2 linked regions of the Homo sapiens genome follow. The protein of the gene in region 1 purifies or fractionates together with the protein of each later gene. This does not show direct contact. Each region holds a gene or a part of one and is shown on either strand. Other genes may lie near its edges. The genes, in order: OSTM1 and TMTC4.

The links.
Region 2: the proteins of OSTM1 (region 1) and TMTC4 purify together in Homo sapiens (co-immunoprecipitation; 2 studies listed by BioGRID and IntAct, with this or other methods). This does not show direct contact.

What each region holds. Positions count from the first base shown.
Region 1 is NC_000006.12:108,061,952-108,073,678, forward strand, and holds part of OSTM1 (osteopetrosis-associated transmembrane protein 1 precursor), read right to left. Parts: intron 2,349-11,727; coding exon 2,234-2,348; intron 1-2,233. UniProt on the Homo sapiens protein: Required for osteoclast and melanocyte maturation and function.
Region 2 is NC_000013.11:100,620,765-100,637,462, forward strand, and holds part of TMTC4 (protein O-mannosyl-transferase TMTC4), read right to left. Parts: intron 15,971-16,698; coding exon 15,768-15,970; intron 14,432-15,767; coding exon 14,260-14,431; intron 14,173-14,259; coding exon 14,041-14,172; intron 5,387-14,040; coding exon 5,307-5,386; intron 5,129-5,306; coding exon 5,021-5,128; intron 4,913-5,020; coding exon 4,771-4,912; intron 3,742-4,770; exon of another isoform or gene 3,623-3,741; intron 3,276-3,622; exon of another isoform or gene 2,909-3,275; intron 1-2,908. UniProt on the Homo sapiens protein: Transfers mannosyl residues to the hydroxyl group of serine or threonine residues.

The sequences.
Region 1 (11,727 bases):
ATTCCAAGACTCCCAATGGATGCTTGAAACCAAGTATAGTACCAAACCTTCTATATACTACGTTTTTTTCTATTTCTATGTTTTTTTTTCTAGTATAGTACCAAACCTTCTATATACTATGGTTTTTTCTGTTTTCTATATCATACCCATGATAAAGTTTAATTTATAAATTAGGCACAGTAAGAGATTAAAAACAAAAACTAATAATTATGTTACTATTATTAAAGAATTAGTAAGTAAACTAAGGGTTACCTGAACACAAGTAGTGCCATACCATGACAGTTGACCTTATAACCAAGATGCTCCTGAGTGCCTCACAGGAGGGGCAGCATCTACAGTATAGATATGCTGCACAAATGGATGATTCGCAGCCCAAGTAGATGAAGCAGGATGGCATGGGATTTCATTATGCTACTCAGAATCATACACAATTTAAGATTATAAATGGTTTACTTCTGAAATTTTCCATTTAATATTTTTGGACTGCAGTTGACTGCAGTAACTGAAACTACAGCAAGTGAAACCATGGCTAATAGAATACTATATAATCATAATAGGAGAATACTATATAAGCTTTTCTTTTCTTTTTTTTTTTTTTTTTGTTATTGTTGTTGTAGATAGGGTCTCGTTCTGTTGCCCAGAGCGGGGAGCAGTGGCACAACCATGATTCATTGCAGCCTTGACCTCCCATCTCAGCCTCCCAAGTTGCTGGGACTACAGGCACATGCCACCAAGTCCAGTTAATTTTTTATTTTTTGTTGAGACAAAGTTTTGCCATGTTGCCTAAGCTGGTCTTGAACTCCTAGGCTCAAACAATTCTCCCACCTTGGCCTCCCAAAGTGCTGGGATTACAGGTGTGAGCCACCATGCCTGGTCTATAACCCCTTCTTAATAATATGCTGATATTCTAAGCAGTATAAAAAATGTTGGCCCAAATAGTATACTACTCTGTCAGTCAAGGTCCTACTTTCCCTTGCTAACTTTACCTCCCACTATGCTTCCTGGAACATCTGTTGCCCTTTTATACCTCTGTGACTACCTGCAATGTCCTTCTCTCATTTCTACTTTTTTTTTTTTTTAAGACAGGGTCTTGCTCTGTTGCCCAGGCTGGAATGCAGTGGCACAATCATATCTCACTGCATCCTTGAATTCCTGGGCTGAAGGGATCCTCCTGCCTTAGCCTCCCAAGTGGCTAGGACTACAGTCACACACCACCATGTCCATCTAATTTAAAAAATATATATTTTTGTAGAGATGGGGGTCTCACTATGTTCCCCAGGCTGGTCTCAAACTCCTGGGCTCAAGCAATTCTGCCTTGGCTTCCCAAAGTGCTGGGATTACAGGCGTGAGCCGCCTCACTGGCGTCATCTCTACTTATTGAAATCATGTCCAATAGTACAGGCCTAGGTTCAAAAGGTAGCTCCTCCAGGAAGTCATTTCAAATTCTCCCCAGTAAGATTTATTTTCTTCTTCCTCCAAGGACTCTATAACTTTATTAAAGCATTTATGTGTCTGTCCTAGGCTGTATTTGTAAATATATCTTTCTCACTCATTAAATTATAAGACTTGAAAAATAAGAACTGCCTAGCACATAGTTGGTATTCAAAACATCATCTGAATTGGAAGTGATTTTAATTTTTCCAAAGAATATCTAAAAATAGATCTTATTTTATTACACAATTACACACAAACCTGCAAAGAAGGTAGAACAGATGTCATCATCCCACCCCGCCGCCTGCCACACACCACTTGACAGATTACTGTAAACATCATAATTATTATTATACTAAACAGTTAACATTTCTTGAACACTAAATACGTGTCAGGCATTGAGCTAAGTGCTTTACACAATTTATTTCATTTCATTCTCAAGGCGACTATATAAGATAGGTTCTATCATTACCACCAATTTACAGATGAAGAAACTGAACTTCCAAGAGGCAAAGTTTTTCTCCCATATCTGACAGCTAGTAGGTTAGGGCTAGTAAGTGGCAGAGCTTAGAATCAAACCCAAGTCTATCTAAATCCAAAGCTCATAGTAACTGCTACACTTTTCTGCCTTTCGCTATTTGCTCAGTTGCCATTAATAAACCATGGTGTCCATGACAGTTTATTTAAACTTAGCAATAAAAAGTATTATCCAGCTTCAAAGATCCCAAAATTCACTAAAATAAAATCTGACATCTGTACTACTGAACCATAACTGCAACATGAAAATGAAAGAATTACTTACTTGCACAATTTGCCTCCTGCCATGTGGTATTAAAAAATTCTGAGAGAATCACAACTATTTGCATTCTATCTGCCATTAAGAGACTTCTGGCACAACTCTGACTCTCTGAAGTATTCTGTAACAAAAAGAAGACAGAAAAATACAATCTGAGTATTTTCAGACTTTGCAAACAACTTGAGGCAAAAACCTTACAAAAATAACATTTATTATAAGCTTTTTAACATTTTGTTTGATATGATCAGATGTTAACATTAATAAAAACAATGATAATAAAGTAATTAGCAGCTAACATTTATTGGTACTAGGTTCACTTGCAAAGGAAGAAAATCTTTGTTATCTAAATAGTTTGTACCCAGATGGAAAAATATGCTTTTGTAGATCATTTTAATAATGAAAGAAACTCATGCTATGCAAATAATAAATCCAAGTTCCCAAATCATTTGATCCTTATCTATTTCCTTTCCTTCGTGCCCCAAGCAAGGAACTAAGTCCTGCTGACCCTTAATTCTTTCAAAGTTATTTAACTCCTACTATTTACTAGGCACTATAAAAATCCTGAAGTTCTGAGGATATAAAAAGTATAAAAGAATGCCATCAATTCTGGGGCTTTGAGAACCTCTCGCAGTTACACAGACAAGGAGTTATACAGTGTGATGAATAATAAAAGAGTGGTAACTCCTGGGAAACAAATGGTCAGTCATGTGGGAGAAGAAATGGAAAAAAGGAGAAAAGAGGGAGAAAAGGAAGAATTTCTGCTTTAAAATATAAAATCCAAGCGATTCTCATGCCACAGCCTCCCAGGTAGCTGGGACTACAGGCACATGCCACCACACCCAGCTAATTTTTGTGTTTGTAGTAGAGACGGGGTTTCACTATGTTGGCCAGGCTGATCTTGAACTCCTGAACTCAAATGATCCATCCACCTCGGCCTCCCAAAGTGCTGGGATTATAGGCATGAGCCACTGCACCTGGCCATGAACAGAACATTTTAAAACTCTTTTTTAGAATTACCTTCTGAGCAATACCAGCCATAGAAGAAAATTTTCTATTATCACTTTTTTTTTTTTTTTTTTGAGATGGAGTCTCACTCTATCGCCCAGGCTGGAGTGCAGTGACGCAATCTCAGCTCACTGCAACATCTGCCTCCTGGGTTCAAGCGATCCTCCTGCCTTAGCCGCCCGAGCAGCTGGGACTACAGGCACATGCCACCATGCTTGGCTAATTTTTATTTTTAGTACAGACGGGGTTTCACCATGTTGGCCTGACTGGTCTCGAACTCCTGACCTCAGACGATCCACCTGCCTCGGCCTCCCAAAGTGCTGGGATTACAGGCATGAGCCACCATGCCTGGCCTATTATCACTTCTTAAGTAGAAGTAATAATATTGTATTAATACAAGCCTGGGTCACTAGCTAGTGACCTTGGGCAGCTGACCCAACCTCGCTAAGGTTCAGTTTCAAAATCAGGGGTCCTACAGTTACTGTATTAAATGAAATAGCATACATTAATCACTCAGCACACTGTCTGGCACACAGTGACTGATATATGCTATTTCACCTAGCTACCATGCTGCCAACCTGAAGTGCTCTAAGTAGGTTTAGTTGGATAAGTGTCATTAGTTGGTTAAGTTGAATCTTCATAAGTGGGTGACTGGCTATTTTAAAAATCAATACAGTAGAGCCTGTATGAGTGTTCAATGTGTGGAACAGTTCGGTTCAGGAAGATATCAATGTAGTTTTGAGAAATTAGGAAAGAGTTCATGAAGGAAGCAGGATATGAACTAAGCCCTATATTGAGGAAGAGAAGAGGATTCGAAAATAGAAGAATTAAATGATCATGGGGTGAAAGTGATAATGATTATGTGGTATTCGGAGAGTATTCAGTAGTCTATGAAAGTAGGGCTATTAAAGGGCTAAGTTAGAACAAGGTTATGAGAGGCCGTGAGGGTCATGAGAGTTAGCCAGTGAGAAATTCTTTAAGATTTATGAGGAGGGTGTCATGAAAAGCAGTTTGAGGAATACATCTTTAGGCCGTGATATGTAGGGTGAGGAGGCAGGGAGACTCATTACACTACTTCCATAGATCAGGTATAATGAAAGGATGATGGCAACAGTGAGGACAGAAAGGAAATGATTAATAATCCAAACGATGATGAGGTACTTACTACTTACCAGTTCCAAATGTTCCAACTTCCTTATTTAATCCTCATAACAACTCTATGAAATAGGTAGTGTTAGCTGGGTAGAGGGTAAACTATCAGAGGTGACTGAGAAGGAAGAATTGGAGAGATAAAGAAAAATAAGGAGAGCATGATGTCCTGTAAATCAAGGAAAAGGGAAGGGGTGGTTATTTGTGTCAAATCCTGCTGAGAGAACTGGAGGTACATCTGTCAACACTGGCAGTATTGGTGACACTAACAAGAATGAATTTGATGGAGTCCTTGAGTGTGAAAGTGAGATCAGAGTGGGTTGAACAGGGAATGGAAGATGAGGACATGGGAAGAGTGAACCTAGACAACTGCTGAAGAGTTTGGCCTTGATGGGGAGATAAGAAAGAGAGGTCACTAAAGAGCAATGTGGGACCCATGCGTCATTACCCTGATGCATGGTTTCTTAAAGCATGATATCCACCTATATATGTTTAGGTTTCTCTTCTGGACAGATGTCCCTTTAAAATGGAAACTGTCACATCTTTGTATTCCCAACACCTCGCCAAGTGACCAAAAAATCAATGGTCCTTGCTTATACTTAGAACTCTTAATACTCAAATCTATCCTAACTACTTAGCAGAACCCTAACCATCTTGAAGCCAGCCATTTCCTTTGATCATGCCTGCACCCAGGAAGTCAGGAGCTGCTGGCAAAAAATTAACAACACAGATTAATTCCAAAGTAAATCCATAATCCCAAACCGTACTCCTCACTTTTCTGTCTGCTCATTCTCTCCTTTTTACAACCGCTATTTCAAATCCTCTCCACTCTCCCAGAAACTCTGATCTCTCTCCCACTCTTTACTCTCAAAAGAAGATCTAGCCTCCTGGATAACAGAAGCCTTCGAGCTGAAACTCTAACCTGCCTACCCCTACATGCAACCTCTCCTTCTACCCTCCCATTAAGGTGGGGAAGGCACCTGTCCTTTTCAAGGCCCATCTCTCTGAGGATGCCCTAGATCCCATCTATCCTGCCTTTTCTGGAAACTGACCTTGTCTGCTTCCCACTCCCTCCTACAGAATCTTCACTTTCTCTAAAGGACCCTTACTATCAACATTTAAACATGTCCAGCTCTCTCCCATCTTGGACAAGGAAGAAGGGAAGGCAGGACAGAGGAATGGAGGGACAGGGGAATGGAAAGAAATGATAGAAAGTCAGCCTGGCACCGTGGCTCACGCCTGTATCCCAATACTTTGGGAGGCCGAGGCAGGCAGATCACCTAAGGTCAGGAGTTCGAGACCAGTCCAGCCAACCTGGTGAAACCCCATCTCTACTAAAAGTATAAAATTAGCTGGGTGTGGTGGTGCACACCCATAGTCCCAGCTACTCAGGAGGCTGAGGCTGGAGAATCGCTTGAACCTGGGATGGTGGAGGTTGCAGTGAGCCGAGATTGTGCCATGCACTCCAGCTTGGTTGACAGAGCGAGCCTCTGTCTAAAAAAAAAAAAAAAAAAAAAAATAGAGAAAGAGAAATGAAAGAAAGTCTCTGAGTCCCACATTGCTCTTTAGTGACTTCTCTTTCTTATCTCCCCATCAAGGCCAAACTCTTCAGCAGTTGTCTAGGTTCACTCTTCCCATGTCCTCATCTTCCAATCCCTGTTCAACCCACTCTGATCTCACTTTCGTACCCAAGGACTCCATCAAATTCACTCTTGTTAGTGTCACCAATACTGCCAGTGTTGACAGATATATCTCCAATTCTCTCAGCAGGATTTGACACAAATAACCACCCCTTCCCTTTTCCTTGATTTACAGGGCATCATGCTCTCCTCATTCTTCTTTATCTCTCCAATTCTTCCTTCTCAGTCACCTTTGAGAGTTTACCCTCTATTTAATCTTAAACTCTTAGTGTTCCTACTCATTCTTCAGGTATGTTCACCCATGTCATAATTTCAAATGCCATTTTTATGCCGACACTCCCAAAGGTGTTATCTCTAGTCCAGTCCTCTAGATGTGTATATTCAACCACATAGGCAATCAATATATCCACTTAGAAAGCTCATAAACACCTCAAAATCAACACGTTCAAAACTGAGTTAATGATCTTCGCCCACTAAACAGACTCCTCCCTCCAGCTCAGTAAATGACAACCCTATTCATTAAGCTGCTCTTATTAAAACCCTGGAAATCATCACTACCTTTTCCTTACTCCCCACATTCAATTAACCTCCAAGCCTGTAATTTCTGCCTCCTAAGTATCTCTGAAATCCACCCATTTCTCCACATCATGATGGCCCCCACATAGCCTAGACACCACTGTCTCTCACACCACTGCAACAGTCTCCTAATTCATCTCCCCACATATCTTCTTCCCCTACCCTCCCCAGCCCCTACCCTCTCCATTTTCTGTCACATAGCCAGCATAGCCTTTTAAAGTACAAATCTGATTATGTCATTCCACAGAATTAAACCTTTCACTAACGTCATACTGCTTTAAAATCAAAGTCTAAAATCCTTAACATACCCTACAAGGCCCACATGACCTGGCACCTGTGTACTTCCTTAGGCTCAGACCACGGGTTTCCTTCTTGCTCACTGTGCTGTGTTCTAGACCTCAGATACACCACAAACTCCTTCCCATCTCAGTCTTCATGCCTGCTATTTCTTTACATGTATACCTTCCCTCCCCTGCCTGTGTTCTCTCAAATTGTAGGTGTCTGCTTTAATCACTGACCATTCTACCTACCCCCCAGTCATACTCAAGATCAGCACTCTTGTCATATGCATTGGTAGCATCTGGGTTTTTTAATCAGCAACACTTATCACACATGAATTAAATAATTATTTGTATAATGAGATGCTTAATGTCTGTCTTCAGACTACAAGCTCTGCTCATTCATGCTATATCCCTAGTAGCTACCACAACCTGTACATAATAGGTACTCAATAATTTTTTTGAATGAATGCAGAAGAAATATTACATTTTCTGATCTCTAATGAAAGACACAGATTATTACACTATGTTCTGGCTTTCTCCCTATAGTCCTCAGAATTCATTATTTAATAATCTACAGTAAAAGTATATTGAATACTCACCAAATACATAACCCAAATGACTAGCACTTCACAAAGATACACAGATACATAGATAGATAGAGATAGATAGGTAGATGGATGGATCTATAGATCTAAATTTTAAACACTATCTAAATTTTAAACAAACCAAGTAGAATAGGACAGAGCCTACCAATTCAGAATCTGAGGGGGCAAAAGCATCCTCAGGACCATTCCGATAATGCTGAATCACAATGAAACTATGTCCCTATCAGTTTAAACTAAAAGGAGAAAGTATGACTCTAAGGAAGAGGGAATCCCTCAGTTCTATCATTCAGGTTTCAGAAATCACTGTATTTTTCACCTTGAGATAATGAAACTATATGCGATCCCTCTCCCAGAAATTCTAAAAGGAAGTGACAAGAACCTAGGATTCTTATCAGGGAATTCTATTATAGTTAAACTAATTATATTGCTGTACCACATAAATAGCTTACTAGTTTCTGGCTTTGATTCTTTTTTTCTCCTTATTATACTCCTCTCCTCTCTCAATCAATCCATGTCCATTCACACTAAAGAAGGGTAGAAAGAATGCCTTGAGATTCAGCTTGTAGGTTTCCCCTGATGAACCAGCCTTGCTCTGTTCCGTCATTTTTTTTTTCTTTTTTTGAGATGGAGTCTTGCTCTGTCACCCAGGCTGGAGTGCAGTGGTGCAAACTTGGTTCACTGAAACCTCAGCCTCCCAGGCTCAAGTGATTCTCCCACCTCAGCCTCCTGAGTAGCTGGGATTACAGGCACATGCCACTACTCCTGGCTAATTTTTTATATTTTTAGTAGAGACGGGGTTTTGCCATGTTGGCTAGGCTGGTCTCAAACTCCTGGCCTCAAGCGATCCACCTGCCTCGGCTTCCCAAAGTGCTGGGATTACAGGCATGAGCCACTGCATCTGGCTCTGTTCCCTCCTTTAACTTGGCATTCCTTTCACTCTTTTGTTCTAAATTGCTATGGTACAATTTATAACACTCACTGATATTTTCCTATTTCCCCATATAAGGTATTTTATTTCCCCTAACTATACTGATAGTTTGAGGCCTGAATCTTACCCTTCTTTTCCTTCTTATCCTTTTACCAGCCCAATATTCAAGAATAGTAGGTGCTTGCTAAAAACTGATTTCAATAAAAGACTGAGTCTGAGTCAAACAAAATACATTACACTGGATAGGCTGGGCGTGGTGGCTCACGCCTGTAATCCCAGCACTCTGGGAGGCCGAGCCGGGTGGACCACCTGAGGTCAGGAGTTTGAGACCAGCCTGGCCAACATAGTGAAACCCTGTCTCTACTAAAAATACAAAAATTAGCCAGGCGTGGTGGTGGGCGCCTGTAATCCCAGCTACTTGGGAGGCTGAGGCAGGAGAATCGCTTGAACCTGGGAGGCGAAGGTTGCAGTGAGCCGAGATCCCGCCATTGCACTCCAGCCTGGGTAACAAGAGGGAAACTCCGTCTCAAAAAAAAAAAAAAAGGGCTGGGTGTGGTGGCTCACACCTGTAATCCCAGCACTTTGGGAGGTCGAGGTGTGCAGATCACGAGGTCAGGAGATTGAGACCATCCTGGCTAACACGGTGAAACCCCGTCTTTACTAAAAATATAAAAAATCAGCCGGGCGTGGTGGCGGGCGCCTGTAGTCCCAGCTGCTTGGGAGGCTAAGGCAGGAGAATGGCATGAACCTGGGAGGTGGAGCTTGCAGTGAGCTGAGATTATGCCACTGCACTCCAGCCTGGGCAACAGAGCAAGACTCTGTCTCAAAAAAAAAAGAAAAAGAAAAGAAAATATACTACACTGGATAAATAAACCTCCCCAAGAGACAACTAATTCCTTCAAGTTCACTCATGACACATTTTTCCATAGGTTTTTGTTTTGTTTTGTTTTGGTTTTTTTTTGCAACGGAGTCTTACTCTGTCCCCCAGGTTGGAGAGTGGTGGCACTATCTTGGCTCACTGCAACCTCCACCTCCCGGGTTCAAGCAATTCTCCTGCCTCAGCCTCCTGAGTAGCTGCGCACCACCACACCCGGCTAATTTTTTTTTTTTTTTTTTTTTTTTGTATTTTTAGTAGAGGCAGGGTTTCACCATGTTGGCCAGGCTGGTCTCGAACTCCTGGCCTCAGGTGATCTGCCTGCCTTGGCCTCCCAAAGTGCTGGGATTACAGACACGAGCCACCACACCTGGCCTCATAAGTTCATTATTATACATGATGGTTCAACTCCCAAACCAGTCCATATAGCCTTTTAAATCTATAAAGTACCTCAGAACTGTAGATGTCACACTTTTGAGCTAATGAATCATATCCAGCTCTACTGGGGAAATAAGGCGAGCCGAGACCAAGGCCTAGGATGAGTTGGAGAGAAAATACAAAAAAAGTTTCCCTGCCTCTTTTCACCTGTTTATCCACTTCCTTTCACATCAGGGTGAGTTGAGCTGGGTACCCAGGTTGCTGGTAGAATCTGAGGGAAAGGAAGGGGGTTTCTACAACTCCCCCACTGGGAAGCCTCCTTTGGGTAGTGGGGAATTCATATGGAAATTCACATGCAGATTGGGTGATGCCCATAATACTGCACCCTAGAGTTTGAGGTGCTATTTTTAGCCTCTCTTTAATTCCACAGTACCTACACACATGAGAAAAGCATTTGCTGCCTTCAAAGACCCAAACTTTGCATCATGATCCCTGGCCATTCTGCCCACAATAGCCCTTGTTCTTTAGAGTAAATGGAACCCTAAAACAACTCATCTTAACCACTCAACACTGAATATGATGCTATATCGTATCCTGCTGTAGTTGACAGGGACATGTCTTGGGTACTTTATTTTAAAGTGATAGTAAGATATATATTCCTTGCTATACCCAATGGAAGTGTGCCTGGAAAATACCGCATGTAAGCCTGAATTTATTTACCTCGAAAATATGTCCTTGGCCAGGTGTGGTGGCTCACACCTGTAATCCCAAATCTTTGGGAGGCTGAGGTGGGTGGATTACTTGAGGCCAGGAGTTCGAGAACAGCCTGGTCAACATGGTGAAACCTGTCTCTACTAAAAATACAATAATTAGTTAGGTGTGGCAGTGCACATCTGTAGTTCCAGCTACTCAGGAAGCTGAGGCAGGAGAATCACTTGAACCCAGGAGGCGGAGATTGCAGTGAGCCGAGATGACACCACTGAACTCCATCCAGCCTGGGCAACAGAGCAAGACCTTGTCTCAGAAAAAAAAGAAAAAAGAAAAAAAAAAAAACATGCTCTTTACAGAGAGATTGACCACAGAATTTATTTAATGCAAATAAATTCCCCAGTTATGTAAAATGACAGATTTTTATTTTATTTTTATTTATTTATTTATTGTGAGATGGAGTCTCACTCTGTTGCCCAGGAAGGAGTGCAGTAGTGCAATCTTGGCTCACCCCAACCTTGGCCTTCCAGGCTCAAGTGATTCTTCTGCCTCAGCTTCCCGAGTAGCTGGAACTACAGACGTGTACCGCAATTCTTCTGCCTCAGCTTCCAGAGCAGCTGGGACTACAGGCACGTGCCACCACGCCCGGATAATTTTTGTATTTTTAGTAGAGACGGGGGTTTCACCATGTTGGCCACGCTAGTCTCCAACTCCTGACCTCAGGTGATCCCCCTGCCTCAGCCTCCCAAAGTGCTGGGATTACAGGCATGAGCCACCGCACACAGCCATGACAGATTTATTTTAAATAACAGGCTGACTTAAAGCAGGATCCAACTAGGTACAAATTTATATTTAGTGCAACTATAAACAAGTTTAGACAAGTTTAAATTTATGGAATAATTCCAACCACATTTTCATGAGACTACTTGCTGTCCCCGTAATACAAGAGGAACTTTCTCATTCTCCAATCCCAATGTTATTCCTCATGTTTTTCCTTTACCAAGCATATCCGGCCCACACCTCGTGACTCCCACCAACCCTGACACTCTAATCTTTTCCTAGTCTAAACTTTATAAAGTACTTAGGAGCAGGAATTGTCTGTTTTTCTTTTTAAAATTAAGTGCCTCACAGCAGCTACCACACACCTAGAGAACCCTTAAGGTATGAAGAATGAAGAGCAGTCTTACAATTTCTTAAAAATTTACCTCCCATTTACTTAGAGGTATTACTATGTGTTGTTTTCTAAAACCTCCTTTTATCCCCATTTTACAGATTAGTAAACAGGCACAGAGAATGTAAGTAACTTGCCCATAGTATACCGCTAATAAGCAGAGTGGAACTGGAGTCCTGGCCGCT
Region 2 (16,698 bases), on another chromosome or scaffold:
TCCATATTGGGGTCTAGAAATCAAAACAAATCGCTGTCTCCTGTTACTAGAGAGTGATTTCTTAAAACAAACAAACAAACAAACAAACAAAAAACCCTCTTAAGCTATTAAGTTCTTATTTGCCAGTATATAAATGGGTTGGTTGAGTTGTTAAAGATTAAGCTCTTAATGCTTTTAAGCTGTCAAAGAGGAAAAAGCTGGATAATTAAACCACAAGGGAAAGCAAAAGCCTTAAATAAGCAGGAACAGTTGGCGGAATGGAATACAGGAAGACCATTTCACGGCAGTGTAATTAGTAAACAATATAAACCAAAAGCAGTACAAGGTCTCAATGTGTTCAATGCTACAGATGATCTTCCAAGTGAAAGTGTAATGAATCCCAAGGACTACAGCACATGATAAAAGCTGGTACTTTATATTCTCCGTTCCTCCCTTTGGACATCATTCTTACAGAAGGAGCATTTATTATAAATCCTCTATTTTCCAAATCCCAAGGAACTGCAGTGACGGGCAGCTACTAGGAGAGGGGAGAAGACTAAGCTGTGGAGCCTAGAGGATAACCTGGGAGGCTGTGGGCAGACCCACTCACTTTGTGAGCAATAAAGTAACAGAAGAGCAATCCCCAGAAAAGGAAAAAAAGGGATGAAAGAAGAATTCTTTTTTTTTATTTTTATTTTTTGAGATGGAGTCTTGCTCCGTCGCCCAGGCTGGAGTGCAGTGGCGCCATCTCGGTTCACTGCAAGCTCCGCCTCCCGGGTTCACGCCATTCTCCTGCCTCAGCCTCCTGAGTAGCTGGGACTATAGGCGCCTGCCACCACGCCTGGCTAATTTTTTGCATTTTTAGTAGAGATGGGGTTTCACCATGTTAGCCAGGATGGTCTCGATCTCCTGACCTTGTGATCCACTCGCCTCGGCCTTCCAAAGTGCTGGGATTACAGGCGTGAGCCACCGCGCCCAACCAAAAGAAGAATTCTTATGAATACCAAGTCTCATATTTAGTCACTGAGTACTAGTTTAACAGATACAGTGAACAGAAACGGTAATCCCTACACCCATATATTCATAACCACCCAAATGCATGAATTCAGGTAAGACCTCATGTGCTCCCATCCTCCACCCCACCCCTATTCTCACTTCACTAACTTTGTGAGGATCGCCCCTGCTTTGTATGTGATTGAATTTTGAAGTCACCACTCGTAACATTATGTTGAGGTTTCACAGCCTCCCCTTCCCCCTGGGAACAAACAGCCGATCATTATAATAATTTCAGCTCTCCTGGAATCTTCAGGTCTCACAGAGAAACTGGTTTCAACATCAAAGCAGGTAACTAGGTCATAAAGCACAGAATTTTAAAATGTAAAAGAACAAAAATGCACGCAAGGTCAGTGGTTCTGGAGAAAGTTAATGTGAGACAAAGGAATATCTTGCCATTAATCTTCCTTGTTCAAGCATCATGCCATTCCATGAGTTCAGCCACATTCCTGCCACCCTTGCCTCTGTGCCCACGAAGAAATAATTCCTCCTTTCCACAGTGGAGTCAGCACATAGAGGTGGTATCTTCCTGTGGCATATCATAACTGAAACATGTTTTGCATTTTTTGAGTAATAAAAATGCGGTGATATGGTTTGGCTGTGTCCCCACCCAAATCTCATCTTGAATTGTAGCTCCCATCATTCCCATGTGTTGTGGGAGGGACCTGGTGAAAAATAACTGAATCATGGGGGTGGTTTCCCCCATACTGTTCTCGTGGTAGTGACTAAGTCTCATGAGATCTGATGGTTTTATAAGGGGAAACCTCTTTTGCTTGGCTCTTATTTTCTTTTGTCTGCTGCCATGTAAGATGTGCCTTTCACCTTCCACCTTGATTGTGAGGCCTCCCCAGCCACATGGAACTGTGAGTCCATTAAACCTCTTTTTCTCTATAAATTACCCAGTGTCAGGTATATCTTTATCAGCATTATGAAAATGGACTCATACATGCAACCACTTCACTTTAGTATTTCTTTTTTTTTAAATTTATTATTATTATACTTTAAGTTTTAGCGTACATGTGCACAATGTGCAGGTTAGTTACATATGTATATATTTCTAACACAAGCATTACTCGTCCACGTAAAGGGACTTCTGCAGAGGGGGAAGGTCACATTTTACCATTAGTTAGCCAGACGTTCCTGCTATCTTGTTTTCTCCATTCATAAGATTCTATCTCCACAACTCACAAAATCATGGCTACCCACTCCAGAAACAAAGACAGTAAGACCAAAGACATTCACATTATGGTAAAAACCAAAGCCTGGTTTTCCAATAAATGTAAAGCAGTCAGTGTTTTCTAGGATTGTTCCCCACAAACCATGGCTTCTGCTCTGACATGATTACCCTGTTATCCAAGTTCAGACAGAGCTGCTTCCCTGCTGCAGGGCCAAGGGCAGGTTACTGGAATCACCTGGGTGATTCATTATTGTTATTTTACTTACTTAATTTTTTTGAGGCAGAATCTCACTCTGTTGCCCAGGCTGGAGTGCAGTGCCGCAATCTTGGCTCACTGCAACCTCTGCTTCCCAGGTTCAAGTGATTTTCCTGCCTCAGCCTCCCCAGCAGCTGGGATTACAGGCACGTACCACCATGTCTGGCTATTTTTTGTATTTTTAGTAGAGATGTGGTTTCGCCATGTTGGCCAGGCTGGTCTTGAACTCCTGACCTCAAGTGATCCGCCCGCCTTGGCCTCCCAAAGTGCCGGGATTACAGGTATAAGCCACTGTGCCCAGTTTATTATTGTTATTTTAAAACAGATTCTCTATAGAGCCCTTGATTCCCTAAATGTCAGATGGGGTGGGACGGTCTGGATGCATGTCAGTTTTGGAAACTACTAGTTGGGTTTTGTTTTTTTTTTTTTTTTTTTTTGCAGAAGGAGAAGGAGCCAATGCAATGGCTGGTCTTTATTGGAAAGATGAAACTTTATAGCACATTTTGAGTAACTTGGTGCAGGCGCTCAATGCACCAGCTGATGGGTACCAGCTTGTAATGGGCTCCACAGCTGGGGCATTGCTGGGTCTTGCCTTTGTGCGGCCAAAACCAGATGACAGCACTGTTTTCCTCTTCACAGATGCACCCACTATTCTCTTGTTGGTGATGGAGGGGACTAAATTAGGGTCTTCCTTGGTGCCTAAAGCTGTCTTTGGGGGTAGTACATTGTATGGGTCCAGTCTCTTCCTTGCAGTCATCATGACCTCCATCTCTAGGCCAGTCACCTACTTGTTATCAATAGAAACACCACCTCCAGGCTGGGCATGGTGGCTCATGCCTGTAATCCCAGCACTTTCGGAGGCTGAGGCGGGCGGATCACGAGGTCAGGAGATCTAGACCATCCTGGCTAACATGGTGAAATCCCGTCTCTACTAAAAATACAAAACATTAGCCAGGCATGGTGGCGGGCGCCTATAGTCCCAGCTACTCCGGAGGCTGAGGCAGAAGAACGGCGTGAACCCGGGGGGCGGAGCTTGCAGTGAGCCGAGATCCCGTTGAGCCGAGATCCCGCCACTGCACTCCAGCTTGGGTGACAGAGTGAGACTCTGTCTCAAAAAAAAAAAATAAAAAAAAAATAAAAAAAGAAAGAGACACCACCTCCAGAAGCCATGGCACGCACCGTGGCCATGCCATTGGGACCGCCAGCCCTCAGGGCCTGCGCAGCCAAGCGCTCCAGCTCCATGAAGTAACCTTGAAAGCCATCGACAAGCAGCTAAGGGAACTACCAGTTCTGACAACATAAGAACTCTTTAAAGCGAAACTCTGTCTCCAAAAACAAAACAAAACAAACAAACAAACAAACAAACAAAAAACAAAACCAAGAAGCTTCAGGCCTTTAAAACGAGGGCAGCAGACATCTCTTTAGAACACGAGGATGCCTTCCTACCTGTAAGGCTAAGCTGGATAAAATCTGGAAATCTACATATAAACTTCTGTGAAAGTCATATCACTATGGATGTATTCCAGTTTGGTTAGAATGAACACAAATTTTTTAATTAACAATGTTTATTGAATACATCTAAATATATTAGGAACATATGTATTTGTTTTCTTGAAACCAAATTAAATGGTTGATTATAGGGAGAAGACAACCATTCGTGTTTAAAGAATTTTGCTATGTGTGTGTCTCATTTTATTTTTGTCAAGAAAATCAAGAGCAATCAGATCTTCGTAAACATCCTGTCAATAACCAAAAATATAAAGCTACTACAGAACACGTTATTTTCTATTTCCACCAAATAATGTCAAAGCCCTTTCAAATAAATCCCGTGCCCTCCAAAGCTGCCTTTTTTGGGGGAAATGCTCCCTGCAGATGAAGAGCTCTGCTCCCTTGAAGAAGGAGAACAAGGGAGCTCAGAAATCATACTACGGATTTGTTACTTTAATCTCTGTTCTTACTCAATTCTTGTTTTAAAAACAGAGAAACTGATGTTTATCAGGAAGTTACCCATTGGAGTGCTGTTTTACAGGGCGGACGGGACTTTAACATGTTAATTTATTCCTGGGTTTAACCTTTTGCGTGGGTGACCTCTTAAACTTGACTAATTCACACTGTACTGCTCTCTAATGAGAGCTTTAAAAAATTACTCAAAAGGAAATCAAATAGCTACCTTCAAATGAGATAGAAACATGTGAAAGAACTTTATAAAATGTATGGGCTAGGTGGGTGTCACTATGTCATTTTATTATAAATAAGAAAAATAACCCATCTTTCCTTCCACAGGCACAGGGCACCCCGCGCTTACCAGACGCCCGAGGTTGTAGTAACAGTCTGGGTATTTCCTTCTGTGTTTAATTGCTGTCCGGTAACTTTGCTCTGCTGCTTCAAACCGTTTCAGGCTATTCTGCACTATGCCTAGATTCATCCACGCAGCGGCAAAGTCTGGCCTAGAGGAGCAGTTTTAACAAAGATAAACAAGAAGATGAAAGGCTTAGATGCCGGAATGCAGGAGCTCCTTTCTTTGTCACTAGCATAATTATAAAAACAATGCTTACTGTATTTGAACAGCCAAAGACAGCAGCTCCTCAGCTTCCTGTAGCTCATTCCTTTCTTTTAAGATATTTCCAAGATTATTCATGGCATGAACATACTTGGGATTTAATCTGAAAGTTGAGAAAAAACCAAGCTGACCATTAAATGCTCAATAGTAAGTTTTTACTAAACTCTCAGGAATCGGTAAAGATATTGTAAAGTTGGGGTCTTTAAAGGAACAGGTGTTTCATATTAGAAAGTGAAAACGATCTGTGTACATAATTCTTCTGTAAGACATACTCGCCATACCTTACAGCTTCCCGGTAGTATCTGATGGCAGCTGTCTGGTTGCCTTTATCAGCCAGGTTTTTGCCAATGTTGTAGTGAACCTGCAGACAGAGAATAATTGGGCCATCAGCAGACAGACTTCTTGTTCAGAGCCTGGACCCCATCACATCTTCTAACTGAAGACAAAAGGTAAAGCGACGAGGAAAAAAAATCACCCACCAGAACTTTAGCTAAAACCCTACAGGGGTTAGGAGTTGCTTGTGCTTTAATCTCCAACCCTGTAAGAGGATCAGAAGAAAGGGGGTATAGGCATGATACATCTCTAAAGCACAACAGAAGGGAAATAACTAAAGACCTCACCAGAGACAACCAGAAAACTACAAAGCTGGGCTTTTTAAAATTTTACTTTTGATTTTTAGAGATGGGGTCTTGCTATGTTGCCCAGGCTGGAGTGCAGTAGCTATTCACAGGTGCCATCATAGCGTGCTGCAGCCTTGAACCCCTGGGATTCAGTGATTCTCTTGCCTCAGCCTCTCAAGTAGCTGGGACTACAGGCATACACCACCACACCTGGCTTGTTTTTATCATCAAAACCTCAAATTCCCCTCACCTACACACTCCACTAGAGTTGAGATAACAAAGTCTAGTCACATGTGGACATGAGTAGAAGAAAGCATGATTCTGTCCACCCATTTAAGCAAATATGGCCCTTTCTTGGATGGCACCTTTCTTCTATAGCTAGCATCACAAGCATTTTACTCTGTATCTGTAATAAGCAGAATGTTTATGGACTCTCAAAATTCAGATGTTGAAATCCTGACTCCTAATGTGATGGTATTGGGAAGTAGGGCCTCTGGGAAGTGATTGGGTCATGAGGGTGGAGGCCCATGAATGGATCAGTGCCTTCATCAAAAAGGCCCTGGAGAGCTCCCATGCCCCCTTTCCGCCACGTGAGGACACAGTGAGAAGACGACCGTCTGTGAACCAGGAGGCAGGCCCTTACCACACACCCAACCTGCCTGCACCTTGATGGTGGGCTTTCCAGCCTCTGGCACTGTGAGAAATGAGTGTCTGGCACCCTGTCTCTGGTATTATTCTCACAGGGTCTGAGCAAGGGCCTCGGTGTGGCTGGAGCACAGAGAGCAGGGATGCAGGTTGGAGAGCCCGGGAGGAGCAGCTGCGCTCGCAGGGAACCCTGAGCAAGGGCAGGCTAGGATCAGTCGTTGTCCTCAGAGCCACGAGGCCGGCGCGGGGCGGGGTCTGTAAGTGTGTGAGTGCCCCAGGGTTGCAGCAATAAAGCACCACAAACTGAGGGGCTTAACACAACACACTTCTCTCACAGTCCTGGAGGCTGAGATCACGGTGTGGGCAGGGCTGGTCCCATCACCGGCTGAGGGAAGAGACTGCTCCCTGCCTCTCTCCTGTCTCACGGTGCTTGCCCATAATTTCCGGCTTGCAGATGCCTCGCTCCCACCTCTGCCTCTGTCTTCATGACCATCTCACCTCTTGTCTGTCTCCCTGTCTCTTCTCCTGTCTTAAAAGGACACCAGTCACACTGGATTAAGGGCCCACCATCCTCTTGTATGACCTCATCTTAACTGACATCTTAATTACATCTGCAACAACCCTATTTCCAAAAAAAGGTTATACATTATACTTCTAGGTCCCAGGGGTTACGATTTGAGCGTAGCTTTTGGGAGGCACAATTAAACCCACAGCAGGAAGCCAGGGGTGGGAGGGTGGCAGAGGTCACCACCATGTTTATGTTCATATGAAACAAATCCCGTGGTGGGAAAGAGATGTGAGTGGGGGAGAAGCAGGTGTCAGGGGCTCCAGGGAGGCTGTGGCTGCAGTCCTAGGAGAGAGGTCAGCAGACTGAACTAGGGTGGTGGTGAATCTGTGGAGGGGTTTGAAGAACAGTGAGGAAGCAAAAAGCATACAAATTGGTGACCAACTGATAGGAGAGAGGGAAGAGTGTCAAGAACAAGTGGTAGGTTCCCAACATTCAGGACAGAATGGGTGTGATGACTTTCAAGAGATGTGATGGGTGACCAGCCTTGTTTAGGGGTACAGGATAGGCTGACGTGGAAGTCCATGGTCACCATCCATCTCCAGAGTTCTTTCATTTTGCAAATCTGAAACTCTGTACCCATTCTCACCTCCACCAGACCCTGGCAACCTCCATTCATTTTCCGTCTCTATGCATTTGACTCCCACGTGCCTCATGTAAGTGGAATTGTACAGGATTTGTCCATTTGTGTCACATGTGTCAGAATTTCCTTCCTTTTGTGGCTGAATAATATTCCCTTGCATGAGTACACCACATTCTGTTTGTCCATTTGTCCCTGGATGGACACCTGGGTAGCTTCTACTTTTTAGCTATTGTGAATAACGCTGCTGTGAACATGGGTGTACAAATCTCTCTGAGTCTCTGCTTTCGGTCCTTTTGGATATTTGCCTGGAAATTGAATTGTTGGATCACAGAATTCTGTTTTTAATTTTTTGAGGTACTAACATGGATAGTTTTATGTTATAGGAATTTTACCTCCATTTAAAAAAAAGAGAGAATGAGGAAAGGATTTTCAATGACTGAAGAGGGGGTGAAGTAGGCTGGATAGAATGGGGCTCCCAGCTGCCAATCTACTAGGAATTCTCAGGTCACCTTGGAACGAGGGCATCAGGGAAGCCAACGTCTGGTAGTTTCTCAACTAAACATGGGCTTAGAATAAATGACAAAGAAAAAAGTGGGGACTTGAACTAAGCCTAAGGCAGCCAGACTACACAAGCTCACGAAGACTACAATAAAAAGAATTTGTTGGCCGGGCGCAGTGCCTCATGCCTGTAATCCTAGTACTGCAGGAGGCCAAAATGGGTAGATCACCTGAGGTCAGGAGTTCGAGACCAGCGTGTCCAACATGGTGAAACCCCATCTCTACTAAAAATACAAAAATTAGCTGGGTGTGGTAGTGCACGCCTGTAATCTCAGCTACTTGGGAGGGTGAGACAGGAGAATCGCTTGAACCCAGGAGTTGGAGGCTGCAGTGAGGCAAGAGCATGCCACTGCACTTCAGCCAGGGCGACAGAGCAAGACTCTGTCTCACAAAAAGAAAAAGAAAAAGTGAAAGAAAAAGAAAAGTATTTGTTGATGATCAAAAGCTCCTTTCGGGACTTTACAATACAAAGTGAGTAGCAAGCCCAGAGGAGACGATGCTACAGAAACTCACTCAATCAGAAGCATGAAGTGTGGGTGCTGCTAACAACAGTCACGGTGAATGGTAAGATGGTGTGTAGCTGGCACACCTTGAGTGGCACCCACCAGCTGGGAGCGGTGTTGCGTGCTGTGTGATCGCGGTCTTTCCTCACGGTGGCTCGAGGCCGTGGCTGCTGTGACCCTCTCTTCTGAGTTGATAAACTGCTTCGGGGCCATTCAGCGTCTCATCTAGGGCTGTGAAGTTGGATTAGAACCAGGCTCTGAAGCCTGTGTTTCTTCCCACTAGATAATACACATTGATTACAGTGCTGGGGGAAGATGAGGGTGACTGCTCGAGGCACTTTCTAGATCCACTCATTCATACCACTGGCCTTTTTCCTAAGTAAAATCACATTTCTTTTTATATGTTATTGTCCCCCAAAGTTTACATTAAACCCTCAGCACCCCAGAATGAAAATGTATTTGGAGATAGGGTCTTTAAAGAGGTAAGTAAGGTCAAATGAGGTCATATGGTTGGGCCCCCATCCATATGACCCCAGTCCAGTATGAATGGCGTCCTTACAGAAAGAGGAAATATGGACACAGACACCAGAGATATGTGTGCACAGAAGACACACCACGTGAGGACACAGGGGGAAGGTGCCGTCTGCAAGCTAAGGAGAGAGGCCTCACAAGAAACCAACCCTGCTGACACCCTGATGTGACAATTCCAGCATTTACAACAGTGAGAAAATTAACTGTGGTCTAAGCCACCCAATCTGTGTGTATGTGTGTGTGTGTGTGTGTGTGTGTGTGTGTGTGTGTGTATGTGTGTGTGTGTGTTTATAGCAGCCTGAGAAAACTAATAAAATCTTGAAATACAGAAGTGGTTTAAACACATTCAAATAACATTATGTCTGAACACTGCTTCCAAATGACCCCTGAAAACACAACCACATCCTGCCTTATCCATCTTAACCTACAGTTACAGCACTTCGTCAAACATACTTAGATTTCTGGAAGAATATGCAGCAGTGCATATTAACAGGTTTTCTTAACTGCCAATTTAAAAGCATATAGATTTATGTTTACCCACTCTGATGAAAGGACTCACAAGCAGAGAAATTGCAGGTGATAAAAATGTGTGTACTACCATGCACCACACAGTAGAATTTAAGCTTTCTGCATCAAATTATTGTCCATTCATAGGTATTTTTGTCCTCAAATTGTAGCTTGGAGGAGGCTCAGTTAATGCTATCGCTGAAGTGTGTGTTGAGAAAAGTGCTCTAAATGATTAGAATTTGAGCTTCCCCCAACCCAGCTTGGACATGTGACTTCACCTCCTCTCGTATGCACAAAACAACCTAGGGCCGGAGAATCCAATCTGTCAGTGATGTCCTTGTAGTCCTCAGAATACAAATACAGCTTCTACTCAGACATCAACACGACGCCCGCCTCTTCCGCCCCAAGCTCCTGCTGTTTTCCTTTGTTCCAGGCAAATTCTGTTTTCTCAATAAAAAGCCCAGACAAAGAGTTCAACCGCCCTCTGCAGTATAGACAGTGTTCTGTTAGACACTCAGAATGCCAGAGACCAGAAGATCAAAGGAGAAGGACGTGGGACTCTGGAACAGGAACTAGTTAAAAATCTGATACAGCCTTAGAAGGCAGGCCATCATTAAGAATTGGTAAACAGGTTTCCCTAGAGGCCAGCTTTATCCTATGGGTTAGGTGGAGGGAATTCTTTGAATAAAAAATAGCTGCCTAGATTGCAAAACAAAACAAAACAGAACAAAAATCTCACAACCAGGTCACTTAAAATAGTGTTTAGAGAATGACTGACTTTTGTTTCCCTGAAATATAAATGATTGAAAAGCTTGTTTATTCTTCAACTTTCCCCCTAGCATTTGTGATGCACATGCTGAGGCAATGAACTAGCACAGAAGTCGAAGATAAAACAAACATTACAACCCAGTAACATGTAAATGCAAGAAAGTGAGAGTATCAGTTATGAAAGGCACCTTTAATACCAGGGCTAAACTAATTTGTTATAAATATTCTGGCAACATCTAATGTTAAACTTAAAATGTTTTGAAAACATAAAAATCCTATAGCATCCTGGGTCACTTACTCCTTAAGAAAATACCTCATTGTGGCATATGATCTGTTTCATTGTTAAAAGAATTTATTATAGAATTGTATCACAGAGTTGATGGTGTGACATACTTTTAAGCCTTAAAAACTAAAAATGATTATAAGTATACTTGGTATCTCATCCACAGTAGTCTCAGTGAATTCAACTTCCCTTTGGCTGAATTCAATAACTAATATTGATTGTCTACCATATGCAAGGCACTGTGCCTTGACATGCAGACCAGGGACCAGCACTACCTACACTGACATTGCAATCTCTCAAAAAAGATGAGTCTTAGCTCACACATCTGGCCCTAAATTAGAGCCAGTTGCCAATTTCTTACTTTATATTCAATAGATATCAAATGAAACCAGTATAGAAAATGTGTCCCCTGAAATAATGGGACTGAAGGAAACCAGTGTCTTCCTAAGTGAGATTACTTTCCTAAAATTAACTTACATTTTTTCAAAAAAAAGGAAGTAAAGATAATTTTATGACACTTCAATTTAAAAAGAAACTCCCAAAAATCTCAATCTTGCTTATATTGAATAGAATCATTGAAAAATGTTCTTGAGAAAGGACTATTACCACTGGGTCCATTTTGAAGATGAGGTCTTATATGTATTCCTTAAATTAAGAGGAAACCACACACACACACACACACACACACACACACACACACACTCTCTCTCTCTCTCTCTCTCTCTCTCTCTCTCTCTCTCTGTCTTTCTCCTAATACTTACGTGCATTCCCACAAGCACACGCCCTGTGTTTTCTAGCCTGTAACATATGAAATCACTTCCCGGGCAGATTTTTGGGTTCAGACATCACCTATGTTCCATCCCCCTTATTTACTAGAGGCACCTGGGCACATCACCATACCAGGTCTCTCTGTAGCCACCTACATTACTAACCTAGATAATGTCAGTTTAATCTTGCTATGCTTCAGTTTCTCCCATCTGGGAAAACAGAGAAAATAATACGCTGTCTCTCTAAAAAGCTGAGTGAGAGGATAATAGAGATGAATTATAGAGCCTCTGTAAAGAAATCTGAACTCCTTGTGGTGAGGAACTCCACACATAGAAGGGGCAATTACTGCGATTCAAACAGTAAAGGAAAAATAAAGCAGATCTATTAACGTTTAAGAAATTAAATCACAGGCAATTTATTTTTGGTAGCATAAAATAAATTGATAAGTCAACAAATCAAACTAAAGATAAAAGCTGAAAGTAATTCACTATTTTATCTAAGTCTCTTAACTAAAATATGAATGACAGGTTTTAATCCAAGAAAAAGATAAGTAGCCAGCATCTCTTATATATTATTCTTTACTTAAGTTTCATAATAAGATGTCAACTATTCATTAGTTTTGTTTATATAATTTTGTCTGAAATCACTGCTTTCCCTTAAATATGGAACATAGACATGAAACAGATCCAGAGAGCTCCCCGTCTCCACCCAGGAGGATTACATTTAAGCAATCTAGGCAGCTCTTATGCTGAGGACCTAAGAGAGAATGATCATTATTTCATGATAATAATCTATACTAAAAGAAAATTCTTCTAACCTAACCCCTTGGCCCCCATTTTGAGCAAATAGCGTTCTCTTCCCAACATAATGCAAAACCCAAACTGAAATGAACCTACAAAAGCTAACACTTGGCTGGGCGCGGAGGCTCATGCCTGTAATCCCAGCACTTTGGGAGGCTGAGGATGGGCGAATCACGAGGTCAGGAGTTCGAGACCAGCCTGGCTAACATAGTGAAACCCCGTCTCTACTAAAAATACAAAAATTAGCCGGGCATAGTGGCGCATGCCTGTCCTAGCTACTCGGGAGGCTGAGGCAGGAGAATCGCTTGAACCTGGGAGGCGGAGGTTGCAGTGAGCCGAGATCAGGCCACTGCACTCCAGCCTGGGCAACAGAGCAAGACTCCATCTCAGGGAAAAAAAAAAAAAAAAAAAAAAAAAAAAAAGCTAACACTTTCTGAGCACCTACTGCTGGCCACCGTGTGAGGGCATTTTAGTTCATTCAGCCCTAACAACAAATCCAGCAGATAGGTATTATCCACTTCTGATAGAAAAGGGCACTGCAAGTTTTAAAAAGTGTAGTTTTGCCCAAAGAGGCACAGCTAGTCAAGTGAAGAGCTTGGATTCATCAAGAATACAAGTGAAAAAATTCCTACCAGATTGCTTCAAACAAAAACACTGCCAATTTTAGAGTACAGTCATGCATTACTTGATGACAACAAGGATACATTCTGAGAAATGCATTGTTAGCTGATTTTGTCATTGTTTGAACATCATAAGAGTGTACTTACACAACCCTAGATGGTAAAGCCTACTATACACCTAGGCTATGTGTGGTCTAGCCCGCTGCTCCTAGGCCAGAAACCTGTGTAGCGTGTGACTGTACTGAATGCTGGAGGCAATGGTAACACAATGGTAAGGATTTGTGTATCTAAACATAGAAAAGAGGCAGTAAAAATATTGGTCGGGTGCAGTGGCTCACGCCTGTAATCCCAGCATCTGGGAGGCTGAAGCAGACGGATCACTTGAGGTCAGGAGTTCAAGATCAGCTTGGCCAACATGGTGAAACTCTGTCTCTACTAAAAATACAAAAATTAGCTGGGTGTGGTAGCAAGCGCCTGTAATCTAGCTACTCAGGAGGCTGAGGCCGGAGAATCCCTTGAACCCGGGAGGTGGAGGCTGCAGTGAGCCGAGATCGCACCACTGCACTCCAGCCTGGGTGACAAGAGAAAGACCCAGTCTCAAAAAAAAAAAAAAAAGGTATAATTTTATGGGACCATGGTCATATATATGCAATATGCGGTTTGCTGACTGAAACACTGTTACATGGCACATGACTGTATGTACATTTATGTTTACCTAATCTGACCCCCAAAAAATCACTAGCAGGGCACCCAAAGGTGACATAAATGTGTACTATTGTGCAGCACATAGCATAAACTTCCTGAACTACATTATTGCCAATTTGTAGGCATTACTACCCCTTTAAATTCCAGCTTGGAGGAGGCTAGTTAATGCTATCACTAGAGAGTGGGTTTTGAAAAGTGTGCTCTAGACATCAGAATCTGTGCCGTGCCCACCCTCAGTCTGAATACGCAATGTCACCTCCCCTGAAGCTACTTCAAAGGGTGAGTAGATCATCTGGAAGATGATTAAGACCTCATTAGAGTCATCTGTTTCATTGATACTGTCTGCTTTTAAATGACTTCTTTTCAATTTTGGCTGAGTGGAATTTTAATGAATCTTATCAAAATCATTAAAAAAAACCATACATAACAAAGAAAAACCCAAGTATTCGGTCATGGTCTTACACTAAATACTGCGCGACAGGAAATGTTCTTATTCAGCCCAAGAACTTAACAGATACCCTAGTAAGGTCCCTTTAAAAGAAATCTGGCAGCTAGGTACCTTAGCATTGAGGGGACACACAGACAGAGCACTTCTGAAAAGCTGTTCCTCACTCCGCCACTCGCCGCTGCGCAGCACACATCTCAGCGTGTTGATGAATAAGATTCCCAGCACGACAGCGGCAATGAGTTTCTTAAGAACAGAAAGACATGGTAATTGTCACCAGTGAGATGCATCCGGTCATTCTGTTCATCAGCTGGCACCACTCTCAGTTGATACCTTTTTCTTGGTATGTTTGCTCAGGGCTCCGAATCCAAAAGTCAGCAGCACACAGTACCCAACGCTGGGGAGGTAGAGGACACGCTCTGCGACCACGAAGCCCACTCGGAAGAACAGGTTACTCGCGGGGAGAAATGGGATAACGAGAAATCCCAGGCCCAGAGTAAGGATCCTGGATGATGAAAAGTATTTAAATAAATGGCTATTTCCAGACTTCTCAAGAAAAACATCCTACTCCACATTAAATTAATGCTAAAGACCTTTTCTTTTCCATGGCATCAACTGAGAAAAGATATTGTTGTCAGCCAAAGGATATCATCAGTAGAGACAGTTTAGCTTGGTAGCATGTGGATAAGGCACAAAAATATTCCTCTGGCACTTCACAGCGAGTCTAAGGGTAAAACTCAAAAGCCATACAATTCGTATGGAGAAAATTAGCATGATCGCATTTCTGAGGCCTTATTAATTCACCTACTCCTCACTATGCCTCAAACCATTTAGGTACTGAACAGTTCAGTGGATATTGTTGGTCTCAATTAATTCAAAAACTGTCCCAATCAGTTTTCACGGGGAAAAAAAAATTCCTCCAAAATGTAATGAGAATAATAACACTTAAGTAAGTTTAAAGTTTATGAAATTTGAAATAAACAAATACCATTTTTTGGTTGCTACATCACCACCATAAATTTCAGTCAGGGAGATACGAAGCTGAGCATTGAAACACTTCTGGAACCACCTGATCATTCCCAATGTCCCCTATGATGCAAGAGGATGAATTAAGACTCTAGGTCAATTTTGGTGGCTCCTTCTTGGGCCCTGTGGCTACAGTATTTCTATAAAAATCCCATTTTCTGTGGATAAGGGAACTGGGACTAAAGTTTGTGGCTCCTTAGAATTACTAACCAATTCAACACACAGGTAAACTTAAAACTTAATTTATTTTGAGACATTACTAATCTAATTCCATAAACACTTAGGCTTAAAGGAAATCACCTTAAACAGTTTTCTTTTTCATGAAACACATTTGTTTTCCCCAATTATTTTCTCAATAACTTTTTTTTCCATCAAGAAAGAACAGTCTCTTTGGGGCAATGGCTTATTTTGTACCCAGCTACAACAGAGGGAATCATGGCAGCGTTCACCAGGGTGTTTTGAGGAAGAATTGTGCAATAATGGGCACAACACACATCAATTACACTCTCTGTTCTGACCGTAAATTACTCTTTACCACCTATGGTGAAAAGGATCGCAAAATGCTACTTCCTAGGGAAAGGGGAAGGGAGGGATGAAGCAGTCATCCGTAGCTCCTCTTCCAGCCTCGCTCCCCACCCGCGGAAGCCAGCCATGGATTCCAAATGGATGGAACTCATCCTAGCCATAAATATGCATTTGAAACAAATGTCCTTAGACGTGACTTCCACAAAATCATAAAAATGATCAGCGCAGGATTTCACAAAACGCTTCTGACTCAACCAGCGTGGAACTTAAGATTCAGTGCTGCCTCTTACCTTCTCTTGTGGCCGTCTTCAGAGCACAGGGCTTGGCATATCAGGCCAATTAGGCAGAACCAGAGTGCTGCAAGTGCAATTACCCTCCAGTCGCTGATGGACTTAATGAGGGGGATGCAGCCCATTGACCAATCAAAACACAGCCACCAGGGACACAGCAGCAGCCAGGCATTCAATGAATAGTAGTAATTGTAGTTTACGGCCTGCCAGTCAAAAGGAGAACAAACATCTATTTGATACTGAACTTAAAAAACACATATATACGCACTAACTTCACTTTGGAGGCACTCATATGCTTCTGCTCAATGAAAGCAGTTGTATCAAATAAAATGTTGCCAACGTGTATTGGGTATGTGACTATAGTCTGTAAAAATGTATTAAATGTATTCAGATTTTGGTATATAAAAATATGGCAAAGCCATCAGACTATGCAATACATTCGTTATATTTCTGGCAAAGCTATGATCTATTTGCTGCCTGAAGCCTGTGACCTCTAAATCTGAGGACCCAGGGTCACCTATACACCCAATAACATAACAGGCTTCGATGGCTGTTCTCTTGATTTTGGTCTCTATGAAATGCACAGCTAAGAATCTGTGGCTTGATACCCTTGCCTTTAGAAAAAAGGCAAATCTAAAAGAATAGTCTTGACACCACTAGTCTTCTAAAGATACCACCAAGAAGGTTATATTTAGCCTTAACCCAGCCACAGGGTTAGGGAGCCCTTTCACGGGACTGGCAAGGACCCTGATGTGAGAAGGAACCACCCTCTTTACTCCTTGTTAGAACGGAAATGCAAGGAGCTTCTGCATGCCCTTTCAACCCCCTCAGGAAGACCTGCTTTCATCCCAGAACATCTTTAGTGATCGCAAGCAAACATGGAGGTGGCGCGTGTATTGGGGATTTTGTTGGCGTGCAGAGGAGTGAGACG